Linked DNA regions of Homo sapiens: regions 1 and 2 are each linked to region 3. A link means that fine-mapping ties the variant in region 3 to the plasma level of a protein whose gene starts in the linked region. Region 3 holds a variant in brackets. A gene starts in each other region. All regions are shown on their reverse strands.

Region 1 (8,178 bases), not on the chromosome of region 3:
AGTTCTGGGAGTACAGGCGTGAGCCACCACGCCCAGCCAAAGATCAAGATTTTAATGTCAAGAGCATCAGCATAGAACTTTGCAGTTATCCAGTTTCATTTAGAGTTATACAGCTTCCTTACAAAAGGGAGGAACTGGCAAATCAACGAAGCGGATTGCTGTTTTAAGCCAGTACAGAAGTAAAAGATTGACGACAATGACCCTCCAGTATAACAACATTTAGTCCCAAGAATGATGATGTCCTTCATTCCACCTTTTGTACATACCTCAAAAGCCACAGTATTTCACCATACCCACTTACCAAGCAAACTCCCCATCTTTTGTCAAAGTAAAGTGCTACATTTACTACATAATTTCTTTATTAGGAACTGAAGATGTTTAACACTGTGGTCATGTTTTTATTGGGTGTGGGTTCTGTTTGTTTGATGTATTACTTATGAGACTGCACAAATATTGAATGTTCTACTTCAACTCTATTTTTTCCAGAAGCCCTATTATTTGTAGTGAGCAAAACTCTGTAACCTAATGATTTTCAGGAATATATATTCCACGTTTATGAGAAATATATCTTCCCTTTCATTCCCTGTCTTAGACTCCGCCATTTTGGTTCAAGGCTTTCCACTTTCTTGAAGCACATAAATAAATGATGCCCAAAAAAGACAATGAATGTGAAATCTGGTTAATGTAATTCACAAAATAACAGATTGAAGAGACAATCCATATATTTATTTCAATTGATGAAGAAAAGGCATTTGATAAAAATTCAACATCCTTTCATGAGAAAAACTCTTAGCTAACTAGAATTAAAAGGGAACTTTATTAACCTGATTCAGCAGAACATGGGATGAATTCCACAAGGTCACATGGCATGGGCTAAGGAATGCCTTTACTGGGTGAAACCAGTGAGCCAAGGATCAGCACTCCTAAGCATGGGATACTCCCAGCAGACACTCCCATCATTACTCGCTTCAGCCTACATTGAGGTGTTCTGAGGCCATGCACAGCTATTAGTCAGTGAGGCAGGACAGCAGCGTTTCTCAACATCAATACTATTGGCACTTGGAGACAGATCATTGTTTGTTGTGAAAAGCTGTCTTGTGCATTGTTAGATATTTAGCAGCAACCTCAGCCTCTAGACACTGGATGTGAGAAGCACATCTGTCCCAGTTGTGACAATCAAATATGTCTCCAGACATTGCCAAAGTCCCCTGGGGACAAAATAACCACCTTTTGAGAAGGTAGTTTACTACTACAAAACAGGAACATTGTCCCCTGCAATTTTACCTTCTTATAATATGAATATGAGAAGTTCCTTATGGGGCTTGCTTCCTAGACAGTCTAGGTTTCTAGGAAACCTAAATGTAAGCCTAAATGTATTTATATATATACATATATAAACATATTTTTGCTATGTATATATGTATATATATATGTAAACATATTTTTGCTATTGAGTTGCAGTTCTTTATATATTTTGAAAATTAACCCCTTATCTGGTAGGTAGTTTGCAAATATTTTTCCCATCTCACAGGTTGCCTTTATTACTAAATATTTTACATGTTATTGCTTTTAACGTATTACATTTTTCTAACCAATATTTCTAGTGTATAGAAAGCAGCTGACTTTTATATATTGATTTTTGTGTCAGCTAATCTTGAAAAATTGTCTAACTCATGATGTATCTGTAGTTTCTTTTGTGTTTTTATTATTGCATCATTTGCAAACAATGGCTTTTCTCGTCTCCCATTCTAATACTTATTTCTTTTCTTTTTCATTATATATATGTGTGTGTACATATGCATATATATATATATATACACACACATATAAATATAAAGACCCAATTAAAAGTGAATAAGACTTAAACAGACATTTCTCCAAAGAAGATATACAAATGGCCAACAGGTATGTGAAAAGATACTCAACATGTCTAATCATCAGGAAAATGAAAATCAAACCATAAGATCACCTCATACCTGTTAGGATGGCTTTTATTTTAAAAAGAAAAGAAAAAGAAAACAAGTACCGGTGAGAATGTGGAGAATTTGGAACCCTTGTGCACTGTCAGTGAGAATTTAAAGGAGTATAGCCACTACGGAAAACAGTATGGAAGTTCTTCAAAAAATTAAAAATAGAGCTATCACATGATCCAGCAATCCCCCTTCTGGGTATTTATCCAAAAGAATTTAAATCAGGATCCCAAAGAGATATTTGCACCTGCAAGTTCATTGCTGCAATATTCACAATAGCCAAGAAATGGAAACCTAAATGTGCATTGACCCATTGACAGATAAATGAGGGAAGGAAAAAGATTATATACATGTACATATATATGCATACCATGGAATATTATTCAGCCATAAAAAAGAAGAAAAGTCTATCTCATGCTACAACATGGGTGAACCTCAAGGACATTATGCTAAGCAAAATAAGCCAGTCACAAAAGGACAAATATGGCATAATTCCACTTTTATGAAGTGTCTAAAGTAGTCACTTATAGAAGCAGAAAACAGAATGGTGGTTCCAAGGGTCTGGGGGTGGGGGGAATAGGGAGTTGCTATTCAGTGGGTTTCAGTCATGCAAGATGAAAAAGTTCTAGAGACCTACTGTATGACACTGTGCCCACAATTAACAATACTGTTAGTATGCACTTAAAAATATGTTAAGAGGTCATGTCTTATAGTATATATTTCTTACCACAATTTTTTAAAAAAACACGGTGTTGAGCAAAGCATGCAAAATACAAAAGAATACTTAGGCCATAATTACGCTTACACGAAATTAAACAACACGTATCACTAAGCAAGCCATAGCAAGAGAGCAAAACTTTAAAGGAAAACATGAGGATGATTAACAGAAAGTTCAAGATAGTGGTTACCTCTGAAGTAGGGATGGTAATGTCCTATTCTAAATTGATAGGTTCATAGGTGTTTATTATTCTTTTTCAAAAGGTATAGAATGTTGATTACATTCTTTCATATGTAGGATTTATTTTACAATACTTTTTTTAAAGAAGTATCATCAACAGTCAATTACAAATGACATTTTGGGGAGAACCGGAGAAACAAATATGAACTGGCTATGAGATGACATGCAGAAACTATTAATTATCTTAGATATGATAATGGCTTTGTGATTATATTGAAGAATATCCTTATTCTTAGAATTTGCATGCTGATGTATTTAGGAAATAGGAACATAATGTATTCAATTTCATTTCAAATATTTCAACAAATGTAGCTATAGGTATTCTAAAATATCCCAAACTATTAATAATTGTTAAATCCAGTTGTAGGTATACAAGTATCATTGTTCTGTTATTTCAATTTTTCTGTATGTTTAAAAAGTTCATAATAAAAAGGTGGAGGAGGAAATAGCCAATACATTCCAACATTCTAGTATTTGTTTATGAACTTCCCAGATTCCATCCCTGGTATCCAAATGATCTGAGTCCAGTGATATGACTGGTGAGATTGTAACCAAAGATTCACCACCTAATAAGGAGTAGGCTCACTTCCAGGAATGGAGGTATCCTCCCTGCCTCCACTTAACCCCAACTCAGTCCCTTCCACACTTCAGGATGTGGAACACCCCAAACCCAAATCTTTGCATTACTCAGGGGTCCTGTTAGTAAATGACAGAAATCCAATTCAGACCAGCTTAGGCAGAAAGGTGAATGTATTGGGTGGTAACATAACCCTGGGTATGAGTGGGGCTGATCTCAGGAAAAAGTTTAGTGAAGGACTAGATATCCTCTAAATTACTCCCTGTCCATCTCTCATCTCTTTTTATCAGCATCTTAGATTTATCTTCTCAGAATTTCTCTCTCACCAGGGCCAGGACCAAATTTCTGGAGTTTCTGGGCTTATATCTGCAACTTTTCCAACAGGAAGGATTTTCCTCCCTTTAGTACTCATTCAAAGAAAGGACCCCAAAAGCCTGGTCACACACACACACACACACACACACACACACACACGCACACACGTCCATGTCTTCTTCCAAATCCAGGAATTTGGGGGATGCAGGGGCAGAGGAGGGAAAACAAATCCTATGAAGATGATACAGTATAATTATTATGCTCATTGTATGAATGAGGAAACGGAGGCTTAGAAAGGTGAAGCTGCTTTCAAAGTCACACAGCTGGTGACAGGTCCAAAATCTGCTTTCCTCCAGGCCACATGAGATTGGCGGGGGGCAGGAGCACACGGTGCTGGAGCGCAAGGCTGAGAGTGAATGTTCAGGACAGACATTTTAAGCACTGCCATTCAGATTCTTCCTTGGGGTGAGGTGAGAACTGAGAACAAGTCCGGGGCAGCACAGGAAGGAGGGAAGATTTTGGTCCCAGGTGAATCAGGCATGAAGAGGGACTGATAGAGAACACGGTGGAGTTGAGGAAGTCTGGCCCTGCCACTGCCTCGTGTGTGAACTTGAGTAATTTCATGCCCTTTCTGTGCTTCTTTTCCTCCTTCCATAAGATAGTTTGGCCCTGGTGGCGCCTAATGGTCAATCACGTGTCCATTTCTTCTCCTCGTGTGAAGAACGAGGGTCGCTCTTGGATTTCTTCATCTATTCCAGTGCAGAGCCTTAGGGAAAGCCCCAAGTCCCTCCTCAGAAGGGGCCATTTCCAAATAGAGCTGGGAAGTGCAGCCTCCCTTGCCATTTTGAGCCTTCAGCTCCACCCACTGGCATGCCCAGCAGGAACACTATAAAGCCAGGCTCAGCCCAGCTCCCAGCCAAGCACCTGCCTGGCAACATGGGGTCCAGCAGCTTCTTGGTCCTCATGGTGTCTCTCGTTCTTGTGACCCTGGTGGCTGTGGAAGGAGTTAAAGAGGGTGAGCAGACATGGTGGAGCTGGGTGGGGCTGGGCTGGGGAGAGGTCCTGAGGGGCCCTCTGGGGCTGGAGTTCTCATATCACCTTGTGGCTTCCTCCACTAGGTATAGAGAAAGCAGGGGTTTGCCCAGCTGACAACGTACGCTGCTTCAAGTCCGATCCTCCCCAGTGTCACACAGACCAGGACTGTCTGGGGGAAAGGAAGTGTTGTTACCTGCACTGTGGCTTCAAGTGTGTGATTCCTGTGAAGGAACTGGAAGAAGGTAAGGAGACCTGCCTCCCAGGGCTGGGGCTGTCCCTTCCCTGCCTCTATCTGACCCATGAAAGTTCGGAGGAATTAGTCCCTTTAGCTGGTGTGGGGAGGGATGGCTAAAGCTGGCAGGGCCCTCAGAGACCACCTAGTCTGAACATCTCCATTGTCCAAAGGAGGAAACAAGGATGAAGATGTGTCAAGGCCATACCCTGAGCCAGGATGGGAGGCCAAGTGTCCAGGCTCCTCCTCTACCAGGTGTCCTCAGAAATGATGCTGGGTCCTTTCTACCTCTGGGGGTCACTCTCACTTGGCACCTGCCCCTGAGGGTCCTGAGACTTGGAATATGGAAGAAGCAATACCCAACCCCACCAAAGAAAACCTGAGCTTGAAGTCCTTTTCCCCAAAAAGAGGGAAGAGTCACAAAAAGTCCAGACCCCAGGGACGGTACTTTCCCTCTCTACCTGGTGCTCCTCCCTAATGCTCATGAATGGACCCCTCATGAATGAAACCAGTGCCCTTATAAGAGACCCCAAAGAGCTGCCTTGCCCTTCTGCAATGTGTGATCACAGCTAGAAGGCACTGTCAGAGAAGAGAAACTGGTCCTCACCAGATGCTGAATCTGCTGGTGCCTTGATCTTGGACTTCCCAGCCTCTAGAACTGTAAGAAATAAATATTTGCTGTTTATAATCCACCCAGTCTATGGTAATTTGTTATAGCAGCCCAAACCTGCTAAGACAACCTAATAGTAAAAAAAAAAAATCCTATTCAACATTATCAAAGTGAATAAAATATAAAATACCTACAAATAAATCTAGAGATGTACAGAAATTTTCTGAAAGGAAACCCTAAAACTTTATTAAATGACATTTTAAAAGATCTGGATAAATAGACTAAACTTTTCTACAGAATAAATAAATAAATGTTTTTTAAAAGATATGCTCTTCCCCAAGCAGGAAGCCTCCTCAAAGTGTTCACCTTGGTCAGCATAATTTATACCTGAAATATAATTAAAATTAAAACCCACTGGGTTTTGCAAACCCTAATGAAATAATTGATTCTGGCAATGATTATCCATGGCTTCTGAATATTTACAGGGTGCCATTTCATCACCCTGTGGTATATTTACAGTTTGTAAGAGGGAAAACACAAGTTTACAACTTGAGGATTCAGGTACACACCGAAAACACATTAATCTGTCTCCACAATGCTAAAAATGGGTAAAGCGGACCTCCGTTCCTCCTGAGGTGATGCAACACAAAACACACAGCATCATTCAAGAAGGGCTCCTGCCAAGACAGTTGAGCATGAACCTCACCAAGCCTCTACAGCTAGCATTCATCTATGGGAAATGTGAAGGACAAAGAAGATGAAAGACATCACAGGGAAGCAACATGGGACATTCTAAAGAACAATTTGTCTGTTTTGTTCAACAAGTCAATAGCATGAAGAAGAAGAAGGAGGGAGGAAAGGAGAATAAAAAAGAGTTGGAGAGATTGTTCTAGATTAAAAGAAACTTCAGATACATTACAGCCAATGCAATATGTGCACCAACAACCATAGAGTCACTTTTGAGACAATAAGAAAAACAAGATGCAAATAGAATATTAGATGATGTTAAGAAACTGCAGTTAATTTTCTTAGGTGTAACAGTAGGATTGTCATTATGTGAGAAAGTGTCCTTAGTTTTTAGAGATGCACACTGAAGTATTTAAAGGTAAAGTATAAGATCGGTTGGATTTACTTTAAAATACTTCAGCCAAAAAAGGGGTGGGGATATGCATGAAGGAATTCTTGTAAAATGGTTCATTGTTGAATCTGGATGATGGGTATGTAGGCTCCATAAAAGTATTTGCTGTTCTTTTGTGCATTTTTGAAAACATTTTATGATAAAAACAAGGGTTTGTTTTTGCAACTTAACAAAATGATCATTAGGTTCACATGGAACAATAAAATACTTGTAACCTGGAAAATTGAAAATGTAGACTAATGAAGGGTAATGGATACCACCAGTCACTAAAACATATTATGGAGCTACAACAATTACAGCCACAATACAAGCATACCTTGTTTTATTGTGCTTTGCAGTCATTGCATTTTTTACAAATTGAAGGTTTGTGGCAACCCTGCACCAAGCAAGTACATTGGCTGCATGTTTCCTATAGCATGTGCTCACTATGTGTCTTTGTGTCACATTTTGGTAATATTCACAATATTTCAATTTTTTTCATTATCATTACATCTGTTATGTTGGTCTGTGATCAGTGATCTTTGATGATACTTTCCTAATTGTCTCAGGGTGCCATAAACTGTGCCCACATAAGACAGTGAATTTGATCGATAAATGTCACATATGTTCTGATTTCTCCCCCAACCGGCCATTCTCTGTTTCTCTCCCTTGGAACACAACAATGCTGAAATGAGGCCAATTAATCATCTTACAGTGGCCTTTAAGTGTTTAAGTGAAAAGAAGAGTCATGTCTCTCACTTTAAATCAAAAAAAGCTAGAAATGATTAACCTTAGTGAGGAAGGCATGTTTGAAAACCAAGAAAGGTCCAAAGCTAGGCCTCTTTTACCAGTTAGCCAAGTTATGAATGCAAAGGAAAAGTTATTGAAGGCAATTAAAACAGCTACTCCAGCAAACACACAAATGGTAAGTGAAACAGACTTATTGTTAATATGGAGAAAATGTTAGTGGTTTGGATAAAAAAATCAAAACAGCCACAGCATCCCCTTAGCCAAAGCCTAATCCAGAGCAAGGCCCTAACTTTTTTCAATTCTATGAAAGCTGAGAGGTGAGGAAGCTGCGTAAGAAAAGTTTGAAGATAGCAGAGGTCGGTTCACAAGATTTAAGGAAAGAAGCCATCTCCATAACATAAAAGTGTAAAGTAAAGCAGCAAGTGCTGATGGAGAAGCTGCAGCAAGTTCTCCAGAAGATCTACACAAGATAATTGAGGAAGGTGGCTACGCTACACAACAGATTTTCAATGTAGATGAAACAGTCTTTTATCGAAAGAAGAGGCCATTTAGGAATTTCATAGCTAGAGAGAAGTCAATGCTTGGCTTCAAAGCTTCAAAGGACAGGCTGACTC
Region 2 (8,178 bases), not on the chromosome of region 3:
GCAGATTGTTTGAGCCCAGGCATTTGAGACCAGTCTGGGCAACATAATGAGACCCCCATCTCTACTAAAAATACAAAAACTAGCCAGGTAAGCGCCTGTAGTCCCAGCTATGGGAGGCTGAGATTGGAGGATTGCTTGAGCCTACAAGGCTGCAGTGAGCTATGATCATGCCACTGCACTCCAGCCTGGGTGACAGAGTGAGACCCTGCCTTTAAAAAAAAGACCAGGCGCGGTGGCTCACGCCTGTAATCCCAGCACTTTGGGAGGCTAAGGCAGGTGGATCACAAGGTCAGGAGATCAAGACCATCCTGGCTAACACGGTGAAACCCTGTCTCTACTGAAAAATAGAAAAAATTAGCCAGGCGTGGTGGCGGGTGCCTGTAGTCCCAGCTACTCGGGAGGCTGAGGCAGGAGAATAGCATGAACCCAGGAGGCGGAGCTTGCAGTGAGCCAAGATCCTGCCACTGCACTCCAGCCTGGGTGACAGAGTAAGACTCCATCTCAAAAAATAAAAAATAAAAATAAGAGTGTCCTAATAAATATATAAACCTACAATGTCTATGATATGAATAGTGCTCACTTAATACAATGTCCTTATGCAGTGCTCAACCTAAACAACCATATAGCAGTCCTGAGGCCTGCCCCTCCCGGCTGTGTGCTGCTGGCTTATCCCTGCCCCTCTCTGGGCCTATCTGACAATGGGATGAGGTCTCTGGGCCCTGAGCAGGGGGCTGAGGCAGGGAGGGGGGTCACCCAGTGCTCACCATGAGGAACTCAGTCTGCGGCTTGTCCGCCACCTCCTCCAGGACCTTCTCCATCTGCCGCAGCTGCTCCAGGTAAGAGTTCAGGCTCCCCAGCTCCCGGCGCAAGGCGACCCCTGCCTCACCCCGTACACGCTCTGCCTCGCGGTCCAAGGAGCCCTCCAGTGCAGCCAGGAACACCCGCATCTTGCCCAGCTGCTCCCCCACGGCCCCCCGGAACTGACGCACTGTCTCCTGCAGGGATGGGGCAGTGATTGAAGGGATAAAGACTCTTGGCTGGAGACCCCTAGCCTGGCCCCCAGCCCTCAGACATGGCCCTGTGAAGTCCTCACCTCCACCTCCACCAGCTGATGCTCCAGCACAGCCACACTCTTCTCCTTGCGCATGCATGCCTCCTGCAGCTGCAGTTTCTGCTGTGGCAGCTGTGTCTGGGGGTCGAGGCATGGAGAAGTGATGGGGATGCCACCCACCCAAAACCCACACCTCCCATCCTAAACCTGCCCTCTGTGGCTCAACCTCAATGCCAGCTCCTCCTCCAGCCATCTTCCCATCCCCAAACCCACTTACATGCCTCCCAGCCCCAGCCAGTGCTACTCCTGAGGTCCGAATGCTTCCCCTGCCCCTTGTCTATTTTGGTGCGGTTTTTTATTTATTTATTTTGGTGTTTTGTTTTGAGACAGGGTCTCACACTGTTGCCCTGGCTGGAGCAGTGGCATGATCACAGTTAACTACAGCTTCAACTTCCCAGGCTTAATTGACCCTCTCACTTCAGTCTCCCAAGTAGCTGGAACTATAGGCACACACCACCGTGCCCAGCAAATTTTCTGATTTTTTTTTTTTTGAGTTGGAGTCTCGCTCTGTCACCCAGGATGCAGTGCAGTGGCACAATCTCAGCTCACTGCAACCTCCACCTCCTGGGTTCAAGCGATTCTCCTGCCTCAGCCTCCCAAGTAGCTGGGACTAATTTTGGTGCACCACCACGCCTGGCTAATTTTGGTATTTTTAGTAGAGACAGGGTTTCACCATGTTGGCCAGGCTGGTCTCAAACTTCTGACCTCAGGTGATCCACCCACGTCAGCCTCCCGAAGTGCTGGGATTAGACATGAGCCACCACTCCTGGCCATGATTTTTTAAAATATTTTTGTAGAGACAATCTCACTATATTGCCCAGACTGGTCTCCAACTCCTGGCCTCAAGCAATCCTCCCACCTCAGCCTCCCAGCATGCTGGGATTACAGGCATGAACCGCCACACCCCCAGCCCCTTGTCTGTTTTGTTGACCCCTCCCTGGCCTTGCCTTCCCTGATCCCCTCTGCTCAGCAGTCAGCCCCATAGCACAGGTCTTTGCGAGGATGACAAACATCAGTGTGGTTTGGTCTCTCCCACCAGACAGGCAGGCACAGAGCTTGGCACACAACAGACCTCAGGGGGTACATGAAGGATATATGAAAGAAGAAAGGCAACCTACCCCTACTCCTGGGCTTCCTCTCTTACTTAAAAGCAGAACATCAGCCTCAGTCAGCCTGTCAGCCTGACCACCAAGTCAGCCTGCCTGTACACACATGGGCTTGGAGTAGGGGGCAGGAAATTTAATTAAAATGTCCCCTGCTGGCCGGGCGTGGTGGCTCACACCTGTAATCCCAGCACTTTGGGAGGCCAGGGCGGGTGGATCACGAGGTCAGGAGTTCAAGGCCAGCCAGACCAAGATAGTGAAACCCCATTTCTACTAAAAATACAAAAATTACCTGGGCGCTGTGGCAAGTGCCTGTAATCCCAGCTACTCGGGAGGCTGAGGCAGGAGAATCACTTGAACCAGGGAGGCGGAGGTTGCAGTGAGCCAAGAATGTGCCACTGCACTCTAGCCTGGGCGACAGAGCAAGACTGCATTTCAAAAAAAAAAAAAAAAATGTCCCCTGCACAGACCAACCATTCTGTGGTCTAGATCTTACCCAAGACCTCAAATGCAAATATGCAAATATAGGAGAGCTCCCAATACTCCTGCCAAAGCCATTTTTTTTTTTTTTTTTTTTTTTTTTGGAGACAGGATTGCCTAGGCTGGAGTGCAGTGGCAGAATCACAACTCGAACTCCTAGGCTCAAGCAATCCTTTTGCTTCAGCCTCCCGAGTAGCTGGCACTACAAGCATGAGCAACCATGCCAGGCTACAAAGCCACTTCTTTGCTGGGAGGTGCCTGACCATGGAATCAGTTCCATTCCTGCCTCAATGACTTGCAACCTGTTTCCTCCTCTGCAGATTGGGAACAGCAATCCCCACCTCAACAATTTGGCGCCCCCACTCTCCCAGGGGAAACTGGGGGACCCTCTAGGCGGTGTTTGCAGAGTCCCCTCCCAGCAGGAGCCACAGGGTTGAATAGGAGCTGCCAGATCAGTCTCCTTCCCGGGACATCCCCGGGGGCGGCAGCTCCACCTGCTGCAGGAAAGGTAGGACCTGATGGCTCCAGGCCCTCGGAGGCTCAGAGGCGCAGGGCTGAGCCATGGGAACGAAGCGCGAGGCCATCCTGAAGGTGCTGGAGAACCTGACACCGGAGGAGCTCAAGAAGTTCAAGATGAAGCTGGGGACGGTGCCGCTGCGCGAGGGCTTTGAGCGCATCCCGCGGGGCGCGCTCGGGCAGCTAGATATCGTGGACCTCACCGACAAGCTGGTCGCCTCCTACTACGAGGACTACGCAGCCGAGCTCGTCGTGGCCGTGCTGCGCGACATGCGCATGTTGGAGGAGGCCGCACGGCTGCAGCGGGCTGCGTGAGGGCCACTCTGAGCTGGTACGTGATCTCGGGACCCAACCCCGCTTCCTCGCCAAGGACCCACGCGTCAGGTCCCGCCCAGAGCCTTCCTGTTCCCCTCCTTCAGGGTCCCTCCTGGGGTCCTCCCTCAGACCTCCGGCCAGCCCCTCCCGGGGGCGAAGGGCTGGGCTGCCGCGAACCCTGGTGGGCTGCATCTCGCCCCACTGCCCCCTTCCAGGCTCCTGGGCTGCCTGGGCCCTGTTCCGTTTCATGGGTTCTGTGCTTTCTTCGCAGATAAAGACGGGCAAGGTTGGGCGAGGTTGGGTTTTTTTTGTTTGTTTGTTTTTTGTTTTTTTTTTAGCGGCAGCAAGATTTATTGCAAAGAGCAAAAGAACAAAGCTTCCACAGCATGGAAGGGGATCCGAGCGGGTTGCCCTGAGGTTGGGGTCTTAAGCACAGGTGTGCTGGGATGGGAGGGGTCCCGGGAGGAGGCTCCTGCCCTGAGCTAGGAGACCACCAGCTAGGACTGGGCTGAACTGGGCCAGGCAGGACTGAGAGGCTGGGTCCCTGGGAAGTCTGGGGGCCTCGAATACCAACGAAAGGACGGTGGTCTACCCCTTCTAGGAGGCGGGTCAAGGCAAAAGGAGTAATGCAACGCCTGTGAAGCCAGCCCCACGCGCGCACCAGTCGCGTAAGACAACAGCAGTGTCTCCACCTCGGGGACCAAGGACGCCTCCGTGCCTCCAGACCCCGCCTCCTCCAGCCCCTGCACCTGTCATTTATTCTTCCACTGCCCAATAAATATTCATGGCAGACTTTACTGGGGCTGCGCGCACACGTGCCCGCCGGTAGCTATACGTGTGTGCTTTTGCCACACGGATGACACGCACCAGCCAGTGTGCGTTCGTCTCTATTTGCCTCTGTCTGGGTGTCTCTGCTGGGTACTTCGGGACGCGCACAACTGCGTGTGGGCTCCCAAGGCTTTCGGGACTTCCAGCTCCACCCAGAAAAACATCCTGGACGGGGCTCTCGGTGCCACCCTGGGCCCGCACACATAAGTGCAGATCCCGGCTGCCTAGCCCTTACAGTCTCCCTTCTGGTGAGGCCCCGCCTGGGGACCGTCAGGCCAGCCCAAGTTCCGCAGCTTCAGGGGTGCGTGGGCCTCCGCTGAGCACAAGGGGACAACCCTGCCCCGGCCGCCTGGCTCGGTCCCGAACGCCGCGCCTCCAGTCCAAAGTGGGCCAGCGCCGAGCAGGGAGCCAGCCCGAACGGCCCACCGGGTGCAGGAATGCGAGCGTGGGCCGCAGGGGCTGGTCAGTCCCTGCTCCGCCTGGCTCCGCCCGGCCCATCAGACCCGCCCTGGGGCTCCGCCCGCCCATCTCCAGTTTCCTCTAGGGACTAAGGCCGGGAAACCTACGTTTGCTCAGCGCCCTTATCGCCAGGCTCCATCCCTGCGCGGCTTTCCTCTGCCAGCCCCGCCTTAAGCTCCTCAGACCCTCTTTCCTGGCTGCTTCGCCCCGCCCCCGCCCCCCGCAACTCCAGGAGCTCGTGAGCCTCTCTAGAGACTCAGAATCCAAATCACTGCAGCGACCTCCCCATCGGCCCCGTGCCACCGAACAGCCCCTCCGACCACGATGCGCGCGGATCCCGCACCTTGAGGCGTGCGTGGGCCTCGGCGGCAGGCAGGAGGCGATGACCGCGGTGCGAGCCGAGTGAGGCGCACACTCCGCACACCAGCGCGCGGTCCTGCTCGCAGTAGATGCTCAGCGGGTCCAGGTGCTCCTCGCAGTGGCCCTGCGGCACCTGGGCCAGCCCCTCCACCAGGCGCGCCAGCTGCAGGTTGGTGCTGAGTGCCTGCGGCCGCGTGGGGGCCTGGCAGCAGGGGCAGAGAACGGTGCCATCCGCCGCCGGCTCCCCGGCCACGCGGCCTAGGCAGGCGCGGCAGAAACTGTGGCCGCACTCGGCTGTCACGGGCGCGTCGAACAGCTGCAGGCACAGCGGGCAGGACAGCTCCTGGTGCAGGAGGCCGGGCGCAGCCGACATGGCGGGCCTGGGTGGAGGAGGAGTAGGTTAGGGGGACCCCGCGGCGCCGCGCTCCCGGCCCAGCCCTGGCCCAGCCCTAGCCCAGGCCGGGCCCGCCGCCCCGCAGGGAGAAGCCCCAGCCTGTAAAGACCTCACATCCTACACTGGATGGGACTCTGACGGCCAAGGGGAAAGAGGAACTCGGTCTCAGGCCCAAAAGCAGCCTCCACTGCAATTCTCAGCTCCAACCCCAAAAATATGCCCTATCAGTCAACCCCAGTTCCTGAACACAAGCCCAGATTCTAGCCCACTGTCCTTGCCCTCGCCTTAGCCCCAGGCCTCAGCCTCTGACCTTAGTCCCGGACCCAAATTCTCCAGAGCCCCCACTCCGAGACTCCCCTCCCTCACTTTACCAAGATACCCAGACCTCCCCTCCCCCTCTCTCCAGCCCACGGGACTCACAGGTCTGGTTGGAGATCTTAGGCTGAAAGAGTCTCGAAGGAGGACCGGTCAGGGTTGAGCTTAGCTGGACTGGGGTCAGGGCTGGGTCCAAGGATCTGAGACAAGCAGCAGGCTCCAAGCAAGGACAGGGACTCACAGGGGCAGCTGGCAGTGGACACCACGCGTGATGGGCACACAGTGCTCAGCGGAAGACCCTCCCAGACTGAGCCATGGCCCCAGGACTATATTTAGCTGCCCTGCCCAATCCCTCCCATCACTTCCGGAAACCGTTCTAAAAGTGAGGGCTGAGTAGTCCCTGGGCACACATCACATGACAGGGCCACCTGTCTTGGCCCATCCACTGTTCTCTCCCCGGCCTGCCTGGAGTCAGAGCTCAGAGCCAGCGGGGAGCCAGGGCCTTTCACACCACAGAAAAGACAGAAAATTGAAGGGGGTCTGCCCTTTCTCCCCCCACTCCCACCTCCACACTCTCCAGCTCCTTCCTCCTTGCTGGCAGCCCCTCCCCAGCCTGTCACCCACTCATTCCCCAAGTTTATGGCTGACCAAGGTCACCCTGGCAGGATTACCCCACCTGCAGGAGGGCAGGACCTCACCCCACCCTGAAATGTTTTCTTCCTCCAGAGCTGAGGGGAGGGTCTTTTCCACTTTGGTCTCTCTAGTACACCCAGGACAAGCCTGGGACAAAGTAGGCCTCTCTAAATGCTTGGAGAATGAATGATAGAGAGACATTGAACAAATGAATGAACTGAATCCAGAGCCTGCAGCCCAGAACTCAATTCTGCCCTGGTTCCTGTATGTGTATCTTTCAAATCTCAGCTGAAATTTCATTTAAGTGGCGCTGGGATAACTGGCTAGCCTTATGCAAGAGAATGAAACTGGACCCCTACCTTTCACCATATAAAAAAAATTAACTCAAGATGGGTTAAAGATTTAAATGTAAGACTTCAAACCATAAAAATCATAGAAGAAACCGCAGGAGAAATACTATTCTGGATATCAGCCTTGGTAAAGAATTCTTGACTAAGTCCTCAAAAGCAACAAAAACAAAAATTGTTAAGTGGGACCTCATTAAACTAAAGAGCTTCTGCACAGCAAAAGCAAAAGCAACTATCAACAGACAGACAACTGAAGAATGGAAGAAAGGCCAGGCGCGGTGGCTCACGCCTGTAATCCCAGCACTCTTGGGAGGCCAAGGCGGGTGGATCATGAGGTCAGGAGATCGAGACCACAGTGAAACCCCGTCTCTACTAAAAATACAAAAAATTAGCCGGGCGCAGTGGCGGGCACCTGTAATCCCAGCTACTCAGGAGGCTGAGGCAGGAGAATGGTGTGAACCCGGGAGACGGAGCTTGCAGTGAGCCGAGATCGCGCCACTGCACTCCAGCCTGGGGTACAGAGTGAGACTCCGTCTCAAAAAAAAAGAATGGAAGAAAATATTCACAAACTATGCATCCAACAAAGATCTACTATCCAGAATATATAAAGAAACTAAACATTTCAACAAGCAGAAAACAACCCCATTAAAAAGTTGGCAAGGGCCAGGCACAATGGCTCACACCTGTAATCCCAGCACTTTGGGGGGCCCAGGCGGGTGGATCACTTGAGGTCAGGAGTTTGAGACCAGCCTGGCCAACATGGTTAAACTTCGTCTCTATGAAACATACAAAACTCAGCCGGGTGTGGTGGCAGGTACCTGTAATCCCAGCTACTTGGGAGGCTGAGGCAGGAGAATCGCTTGAACCCGGGAGGCAGAGGTTGCAGTGAACCGAGATCGCACCACTGGACTCCAGCCTGGGTGACAAGAGCGAAACTCCAACTCAAAAAAAATAGCTGGGCATGGTGAAGAACACCTGTAGTCCCAGCTGCTCGGGAGGCTGAGATGGGAGGATTGCTTGAACCTGGGAAGCAGAGGTTGCAGTGAGCCAAGATCATGCCATTGCACTCCAGCATGGGCAACAAGAGCAAAACTCCGTCTCAAAAAAAACAATAAATATTAAAAAAAAGAAAAGAAAGAAATTTCATCTAGAATAAAAACCAAAGTGCTAACTGTGGCTTACAAAGCCCTATCTGCTATGACCCCATTAATCACTCTGACTCTTTTATCACCCCTTTCCCCATTGATCACTCGGCATCAGGGACTTTGCACTTACGGTCCCCTCTGCCTGGAACACTCTCCAACCCAGGTACTGCAT
Region 3 (8,178 bases):
GAGCAGGCACGAGACAGCTCCAGGCACTCAGCGTCCCAAGAGGGTCAGGACACCATTCGTGGACACCCAGGGTCAAGCAGAGGAGGAAGGCAGGGATCCCACTATGAGCAATCGGTAGATAGTTCTGGACACTCAGGGTCTCATCACAGCCACACCACGTCCCAGGAAAGGTCTGATGTCTCCCGTGGGCAGTCAGGATCCAGAAGTGTCAGCAGACAAACACGTAATGAGAAACAATCAGGAGACGGCTCCAGGCACTCAGGGTCGCGTCACCATGAAGCTTCCTCTCGGGCCGACAGCTCTAGACACTCGCAGGTGGGCCAGGGACAATCATCAGGGCCCAGGACAAGCAGGAACCAGGGATCCAGTGTTAGCCAGGACAGTGACAGTCAGGGACACTCAGAAGACTCTGAGAGGTGGTCTGGGTCTGCTTCCAGAAACCATCTTGGATCTGCTTGGGAGCAGTCAAGAGATGGCTCCAGACACCCTGGGTCCCATCACGAAGACAGAGCCGGTCACGGGCACTCTGCAGACAGCTCCAGACAATCAGGCACTCGTCACACAGAGTCTTCCTCTCGTGGACAGGCTGCGTCATCCCATGAACAGGCAAGATCAAGTGCAGGAGAAAGACATGGATCCCACCACCAGCTCCAGTCAGCAGACAGCTCCAGACACTCAGGCATTGGGCATGGACAAGCTTCATCTGCAGTCAGAGACAGTGGACACCGAGGGTACAGTGGTAGTCAGGCCAGTGACAGTGAGGGACATTCAGAAGACTCAGACACACAGTCAGTGTCAGCACAGGGAAAAGCTGGGCCCCATCAGCAGAGCCACAAAGAGTCCGCACGTGGCCAGTCAGGGGAAAGCTCTGGACGTTCAGGGTCTTTCCTCTACCAGGTGAGCACTCATGAACAGTCTGAGTCCACCCATGGACAGTCTGCGCCCAGCACTGGAGGAAGACAAGGATCCCATTATGATCAGGCACAAGACAGCTCCAGGCACTCAGCATCCCAAGAGGGTCAGGACACCATTCGTGGACACCCGGGGCCAAGCAGAGGAGGAAGACAGGGGTCCCACCAAGAGCAATCGGTAGATAGGTCTGGACACTCAGGGTCTCATCACAGCCACACCACATCCCAGGGAAGGTCTGATGCCTCCCGTGGGCAGTCAGGATCCAGAAGTGCAAGCAGAAAAACATATGACAAGGAACAATCAGGAGATGGCTCTAGGCACTCAGGGTCGCATCATCATGAAGCTTCCTCTTGGGCCGACAGCTCTAGACACTCACTGGTGGGCCAGGGACAATCATCAGGGCCCAGGACAAGCAGGCCCCGGGGATCCAGTGTTAGCCAGGACAGTGACAGTGAGGGACACTCAGAAGATTCTGAGAGGCGGTCTGGGTCTGCGTCCAGAAACCATCATGGATCTGCTCAGGAGCAGTCAAGAGATGGCTCCAGACACCCCAGGTCCCATCACGAAGACAGAGCCGGTCATGGGCACTCTGCAGAGAGCTCCAGACAATCAGGCACTCATCATGCAGAGAATTCCTCTGGTGGACAGGCTGCATCATCCCATGAACAGGCAAGATCAAGTGCAGGAGAGAGACACGGATCCCACCACCAGCAGTCAGCAGACAGCTCCAGACACTCAGGCATTGGGCACGGACAAGCTTCATCTGCAGTCAGAGACAGTGGACACCGAGGGTCCAGTGGTAGTCAGGCCAGTGACAGTGAGGGACATTCAGAAGACTCAGACACACAGTCAGTGTCAGCCCACGGACAGGCTGGGCCCCATCAGCAGAGCCACCAAGAGTCCACACGTGGCCGGTCAGCAGGAAGGTCTGGACGTTCAGGGTCTTTCCTCTACCAGGTGAGCACTCATGAACAGTCTGAGTCCGCCCATGGACGGACCGGGACCAGCACTGGAGGAAGACAAGGATCCCACCACAAGCAGGCACGAGACAGCTCCAGGCACTCAACGTCCCAAGAGGGTCAGGACACCATTCATGGACACCCGGGGTCAAGCAGTGGAGGAAGGCAGGGATCCCACTACGAGCAATTGGTAGATAGATCTGGACACTCAGGGTCTCATCACAGCCACACCACATCCCAGGGAAGGTCTGATGCCTCCCATGGGCACTCAGGATCCAGAAGTGCAAGCAGACAAACTCGTAACGATGAACAATCAGGAGACGGCTCCAGGCACTCAGGGTCGCGTCACCATGAAGCTTCCTCTCGGGCCGACAGCTCTGGACACTCGCAGGTGGGCCAGGGACAATCAGAGGGGCCCAGGACAAGCAGGAACTGGGGATCCAGTTTTAGCCAGGACAGTGACAGTCAGGGACACTCAGAAGACTCTGAGAGGTGGTCTGGGTCTGCTTCCAGAAACCATCATGGATCTGCTCAGGAGCAGCTAAGAGATGGCTCCAGACACCCCAGGTCCCATCAAGAAGACAGAGCTGGTCATGGGCACTCTGCAGACAGCTCCAGACAATCAGGCACTCGTCACACACAGACTTCCTCTGGTGGACAGGCTGCATCATCCCATGAACAGGCAAGATCAAGTGCAGGAGAAAGACATGGATCCCACCACCAGCAGTCAGCAGACAGCTCCAGACACTCAGGCATTGGGCACGGACAAGCTTCATCTGCAGTCAGAGACAGTGGACACCGAGGGTACAGTGGTAGTCAGGCCAGTGACAATGAGGGACATTCAGAAGACTCAGACACACAGTCAGTGTCAGCCCACGGACAGGCTGGGTCCCATCAGCAGAGCCACCAAGAGTCCGCACGTGGCCGGTCAGGGGAAACGTCTGGACATTCAGGATCTTTCCTCTACCAGGTGAGCACTCATGAACAGTCTGAGTCCTCCCATGGATGGACGGGGCCCAGCACTAGAGGAAGACAAGGATCCCGCCATGAGCAGGCACAAGACAGCTCCAGGCACTCAGCATCCCAAGACGGTCAGGACACCATTCGTGGACACCCGGGGTCAAGCAGAGGAGGAAGGCAGGGGTACCACCACGAGCATTCGGTAGATAGCTCTGGACACTCAGGGTCCCATCACAGCCACACCACATCCCAGGGAAGGTCTGATGCCTCCCGTGGGCAGTCAGGATCCAGAAGTGCAAGCAGAACAACACGTAATGAGGAACAATCAGGAGACGGCTCCAGGCACTCAGGGTCGCGTCACCATGAAGCTTCCACTCATGCCGACATCTCTAGACACTCACAGGCAGTCCAGGGACAATCAGAGGGGTCCAGGAGAAGCAGGCGCCAGGGATCCAGTGTGAGCCAGGACAGTGACAGTGAGGGACATTCAGAAGACTCTGAGAGGTGGTCTGGGTCTGCTTCCAGAAACCATCATGGATCTGCTCAGGAGCAGCTAAGAGATGGCTCCAGACACCCCAGGTCCCATCAAGAAGACAGAGCTGGTCATGGGCACTCTGCAGACAGCTCCAGACAATCAGGCACTCGTCACACACAGACTTCCTCTGGTGGACAGGCTGCATCATCCCATGAACAGGCAAGATCAAGTGCAGGAGAAAGACATGGATCCCACCACCAGCAGTCAGCAGACAGCTCCAGACACTCAGGCATTGGGCACGGACAAGCTTCATCTGCAGTCAGAGACAGTGGACACCGAGGGTACAGTGGTAGTCAGGCCAGTGACAATGAGGGACATTCAGAAGACTCAGACACACAGTCAGTGTCAGCCCACGGACAGGCTGGGTCCCATCAGCAGAGCCACCAAGAGTCCGCACGTGGCCGGTCAGGGGAAACGTCTGGACATTCAGGATCTTTCCTCTACCAGGTGAGCACTCATGAACAGTCTGAGTCCTCCCATGGATGGACGGGGCCCAGCACTAGAGGAAGACAAGGATCCCGCCATGAGCAGGCACAAGACAGCTCCAGGCACTCAGCATCCCAATACGGTCAGGACACCATTCGTGGACACCCGGGGTCAAGCAGAGGAGGAAGGCAGGGGTACCACCACGAGCATTCGGTAGATAGCTCTGGACACTCAGGGTCCCATCACAGCCACACCACATCCCAGGGAAGGTCTGATGCCTCCCGTGGGCAGTCAGGATCCAGAAGTGCAAGCAGAACAACACGTAATGAGGAACAATCAGGAGACAGCTCCAGGCACTCAGTGTCACGTCACCATGAAGCTTCCACTCATGCCGACATCTCTAGACACTCACAGGCAGTCCAGGGACAATCAGAGGGGTCCAGGAGAAGCAGGCGCCAGGGATCCAGTGTGAGCCAGGACAGTGACAGTGAGGGACATTCAGAAGACTCTGAGAGGTGGTCTGGGTCTGCTTCCAGAAACCATCGTGGATCTGTTCAGGAGCAGT[C/A]AAGGCACGGCTCCAGACACCCCAGGTCCCATCACGAAGACAGAGCCGGTCACGGGCACTCTGCAGACCGCTCCAGACAATCAGGCACTCGTCACGCAGAGACTTCCTCTGGTGGACAGGCTGCATCATCCCATGAACAGGCAAGATCAAGTCCAGGAGAGAGACACGGATCCCGCCACCAGCAGTCAGCAGACAGCTCCAGACACTCAGGCATTCCGCGTGGACAAGCTTCATCTGCAGTCAGAGACAGTAGACACTGGGGGTCCAGTGGTAGTCAGGCCAGTGATAGTGAGGGACATTCAGAAGAGTCAGACACACAGTCAGTGTCAGGCCATGGACAGGCTGGGCCCCATCAGCAGAGCCACCAAGAGTCCGCACGTGACCGGTCAGGGGGAAGGTCTGGACGTTCAGGGTCTTTCCTCTACCAGGTGAGCACTCATGAACAGTCTGAGTCTGCCCATGGGCGGACCAGGACCAGCACTGGACGAAGACAAGGATCCCACCACGAGCAGGCACGAGACAGCTCCAGGCACTCAGCGTCCCAAGAGGGTCAGGACACCATTCGTGGACACCCGGGGTCAAGCAGAAGAGGAAGGCAGGGATCCCACTACGAGCAATCGGTAGATAGGTCTGGACACTCAGGGTCCCATCACAGCCACACCACATCCCAGGGAAGGTCTGATGCCTCCCGTGGGCAGTCAGGATCCAGAAGTGCCAGCAGACAAACTCGTAATGACGAACAATCAGGAGATGGCTCCAGGCACTCATGGTCGCATCACCATGAAGCTTCCACTCAGGCGGACAGCTCTAGACACTCACAGTCCGGCCAGGGACAATCAGCGGGGCCCAGGACAAGCAGGAACCAGGGATCCAGTGTTAGCCAGGACAGTGACAGTCAGGGACACTCAGAAGACTCTGAGAGGTGGTCTGGGTCTGCTTCCAGAAACCATCGTGGATCTGCTCAGGAGCAGTCAAGAGATGGCTCCAGACACCCCACGTCCCATCACGAAGACAGAGCCGGTCACGGGCACTCTGCAGAGAGCTCCAGACAATCAGGCACTCATCATGCAGAGAATTCCTCTGGTGGACAGGCTGCATCATCCCATGAACAGGCAAGATCAAGTGCAGGAGAGAGACATGGATCCCACCACCAGCAGTCAGCAGACAGCTCCAGACACTCAGGCATTGGGCACGGACAAGCTTCATCTGCAGTCAGAGACAGTGGACACCGAGGGTCCAGTGGTAGTCAGGCCAGTGACAGTGAGGGACATTCAGAAGACTCAGACACACAGTCAGTGTCAGCCCACGGACAGGCTGGGCCCCATCAGCAGAGCCACCAAGAGTCCACACGTGGCCGGTCAGCAGGAAGGTCTGGACGTTCAGGGTCTTTCCTCTACCAGGTGAGCACTCATGAACAGTCTGAGTCTGCCCATGGACGGGCTGGGCCCAGTACTGGAGGAAGACAAGGATCCCGCCACGAGCAGGCACGAGACAGCTCCAGGCACTCAGCGTCCCAAGAGGGTCAGGACACCATTCGTGGACACCCGGGGTCAAGGAGAGGAGGAAGACAGGGATCCTACCACGAGCAATCGGTAGATAGGTCTGGACACTCAGGGTCCCATCACAGCCACACCACATCCCAGGGAAGGTCTGATGCCTCCCATGGGCAGTCAGGATCCAGAAGTGCAAGCAGAGAAACACGTAATGAGGAACAGTCAGGAGACGGCTCCAGGCACTCAGGGTCGCGTCACCATGAAGCTTCCACTCAGGCTGACAGCTCTAGACACTCACAGTCCGGCCAGGGTGAATCAGCGGGGTCCAGGAGAAGCAGGCGCCAGGGATCCAGTGTTAGCCAGGACAGTGACAGTGAGGCATACCCAGAGGACTCTGAGAGGCGATCTGAGTCTGCTTCCAGAAACCATCATGGATCTTCTCGGGAGCAGTCAAGAGATGGCTCCAGACACCCCGGATCCTCTCACCGCGATACAGCCAGTCATGTACAGTCTTCACCTGTACAGTCAGACTCTAGTACCGCTAAGGAACATGGTCACTTTAGTAGTCTTTCACAAGATTCTGCGTATCACTCAGGAATACAGTCACGTGGCAGTCCTCACAGTTCTAGTTCTTATCATTATCAATCTGAGGGCACTGAAAGGCAAAAAGGTCAATCAGGTTTAGTTTGGAGACATGGCAGCTATGGTAGTGCAGATTATGATTATGGTGAATCCGGGTTTAGACACTCTCAGCACGGAAGTGTTAGTTACAATTCCAATCCTGTTGTTTTCAAGGAAAGATCTGATATCTGTAAAGCAAGTGCGTTTGGTAAAGATCATCCAAGGTATTATGCAACGTATATTAATAAGGACCCAGGTTTATGTGGCCATTCTAGTGATATATCGAAACAACTGGGATTTAGTCAGTCACAGAGATACTATTACTATGAGTAAGAAATTAATGGCAAAGGAATTAATCCAAGAATAGAAGAATGAAGCAAGTTCACTTTCAATCAAGAAACTTCATAATACTTTCAGGGAAGTTATCTTTTCCTGTCAATCTGTTTAAAATATGCTATAGTATTTCATTAGTTTGGTGGTAGCTTATTTTTATTGTGTAATGATCTTTAAACGCTATATTTCAGAAATATTAAATGGAAGAAATCAATATCATGGAGAGCTAACTTTAGAAAACTAGCTGGAGTATTTTAGGAGATTCTGGGTCAAGTAATGTTTTATGTTTTTGAAAGTTTAAGTTTTAGACACTCCCCAAATTTCTAAATTAATCTTTTTCAGAAATATCGAAGGAGCCAAAAATATAAAACAGTTCTGTATACCAAAGTGGCTATATCAACATCAGGGCTAGCACATCTTTCTCTATTATCCTTCTATTGGAATTCTAGTATTCTGTATTCAAAAAATCATCTTGGACATAATTAATATTATAGTAAGCTGCATCTAAATTAAAAATAAACTATTCATCATATAATACTGTTTGTCTCTTGTATTCTTATTTGTCATAAACACAAATTACATACTTCCCCATGGCCAGAATTAGATGTCTTCTATATCATTGGAAAGCTATATGACCATAAAGCAGATACATTACATTCAAAATAACAAGTAATTAATAATGAAAGACAAAATTTAATCAAGGCCTATATTTTTCTCCAACATAATCACTGTCCCACAATCACATGCAGGAAAAAAAAAAACATGCTCTGCTCAATCATGAATATCACTATTATTAATATGGAATTATCAACTTAGGTGGTGATTAAGCCATGTCAAAGGCAGATCACGAAACAGGAATTACTGACCATAGATCCTTCTTCCAAAGACACTAGGAGATGCTTTGCAATGTAGACTAGTTGGAGCAGAGAAGTTGTGCTGATATATCCTGAAAAAGGGAAAAGAATTAAAAAGAAGTGTCCTCCTGACCTGGAAGGAAAATATTTGTATCTTTGTAATTTAAGCAAGTAGATGAAAATGCTGAAAAAAGAATAGTAAAAATATGAATGAAGTTCTACCAGTAGAAGGAATATGCTTCTGTAAGAATCCTACCCAAATTTTCATTCCCATAATATCAGACTAGAAGTGATATGTAGGTCAGCGATCACATTTTGCAGATGAGTCTATTACACAAATAATCCACACCAAAGTAGCACTTAGATCTCAAGTCTCCAAATCTGCTTTTAGTGGTTTTATAAAAGCACTTCCAAAAAGCTGCCTTTATTGAACTTACACTTGAGTAAACCAAGATAAAGTGACACTGATTGTCAAAGTTACAATAATACCCAATAGGTGCAGGGACTGAATGAAAAGCAA

Which allele goes with the higher level. Alleles are on the strand shown, and positions count from the first base shown. The strength of an association depends on the size of the effect and on how common the allele is.
For the plasma level of the protein whose gene starts at base 4,739 in region 1, C is the low allele of the variant in region 3 and A is the other (moderate association).
In carriers of allele C in region 3, the plasma level of the protein whose gene starts at base 3,149 in region 2 tends to be lower than with A alone (weak association).

What was found. PIP is the posterior inclusion probability: the model's chance that the variant is causal. Protein levels are from antibody-based Olink assays in UK Biobank. Linkage for the fine-mapping came from a reference panel and not from the study's own genotypes, which makes the PIPs less certain.
Region 1: WFDC12 starts here. The variant in region 3 is fine-mapped to the plasma level of the WFDC12 protein (UK Biobank, PIP above 0.99).
Region 2: PYDC1 starts here. The variant in region 3 is fine-mapped to the plasma level of the PYDC1 protein (UK Biobank, PIP above 0.99).

Annotation. Positions count from the first base shown.
Region 1 is chr20:45,121,026-45,129,203 of GRCh38, reverse strand. WFDC12 (WAP four-disulfide core domain 12) reads left to right here and starts at 4,739. Exons shown (of 3, transcript NM_080869.2): 1 at 4,739-4,835; 2 at 4,939-5,097; 3 at 5,261-5,779. The coding sequence starts at 4,757. The coding sequence ends at 5,358.
Region 2 is chr16:31,212,106-31,220,283 of GRCh38, reverse strand. PYDC1 (pyrin domain containing 1) reads left to right here and starts at 3,149. Exons shown (of 2, transcript NM_152901.4): 1 at 3,149-3,541; 2 at 4,127-4,322. The coding sequence starts at 3,256. The coding sequence ends at 3,525. TRIM72 (tripartite motif containing 72) reads right to left here and starts at 6,165. Exons shown (of 7, transcript NM_001008274.4): 1 at 5,987-6,165; 2 at 5,156-5,552; 3 at 1,094-1,189; 4 at 765-995. The coding sequence starts at 5,545. RefSeq lists enhancers at 3,014-3,928, 4,844-5,758, 5,759-6,674.
Region 3 is chr1:152,301,326-152,309,503 of GRCh38, reverse strand. FLG (filaggrin) reads left to right here. Exons shown (of 3, transcript NM_002016.2): 3 at 1-7,339. The coding sequence ends at 6,804. All of the region lies in intron 3 of CCDST (cervical cancer associated DHX9 suppressive transcript), which reads right to left. Among named protein-coding and RNA genes, the nearest start is that of FLG, 20 kb to the left of the region's middle. The variant C/A (reference allele first, on the strand shown) is at 4,358.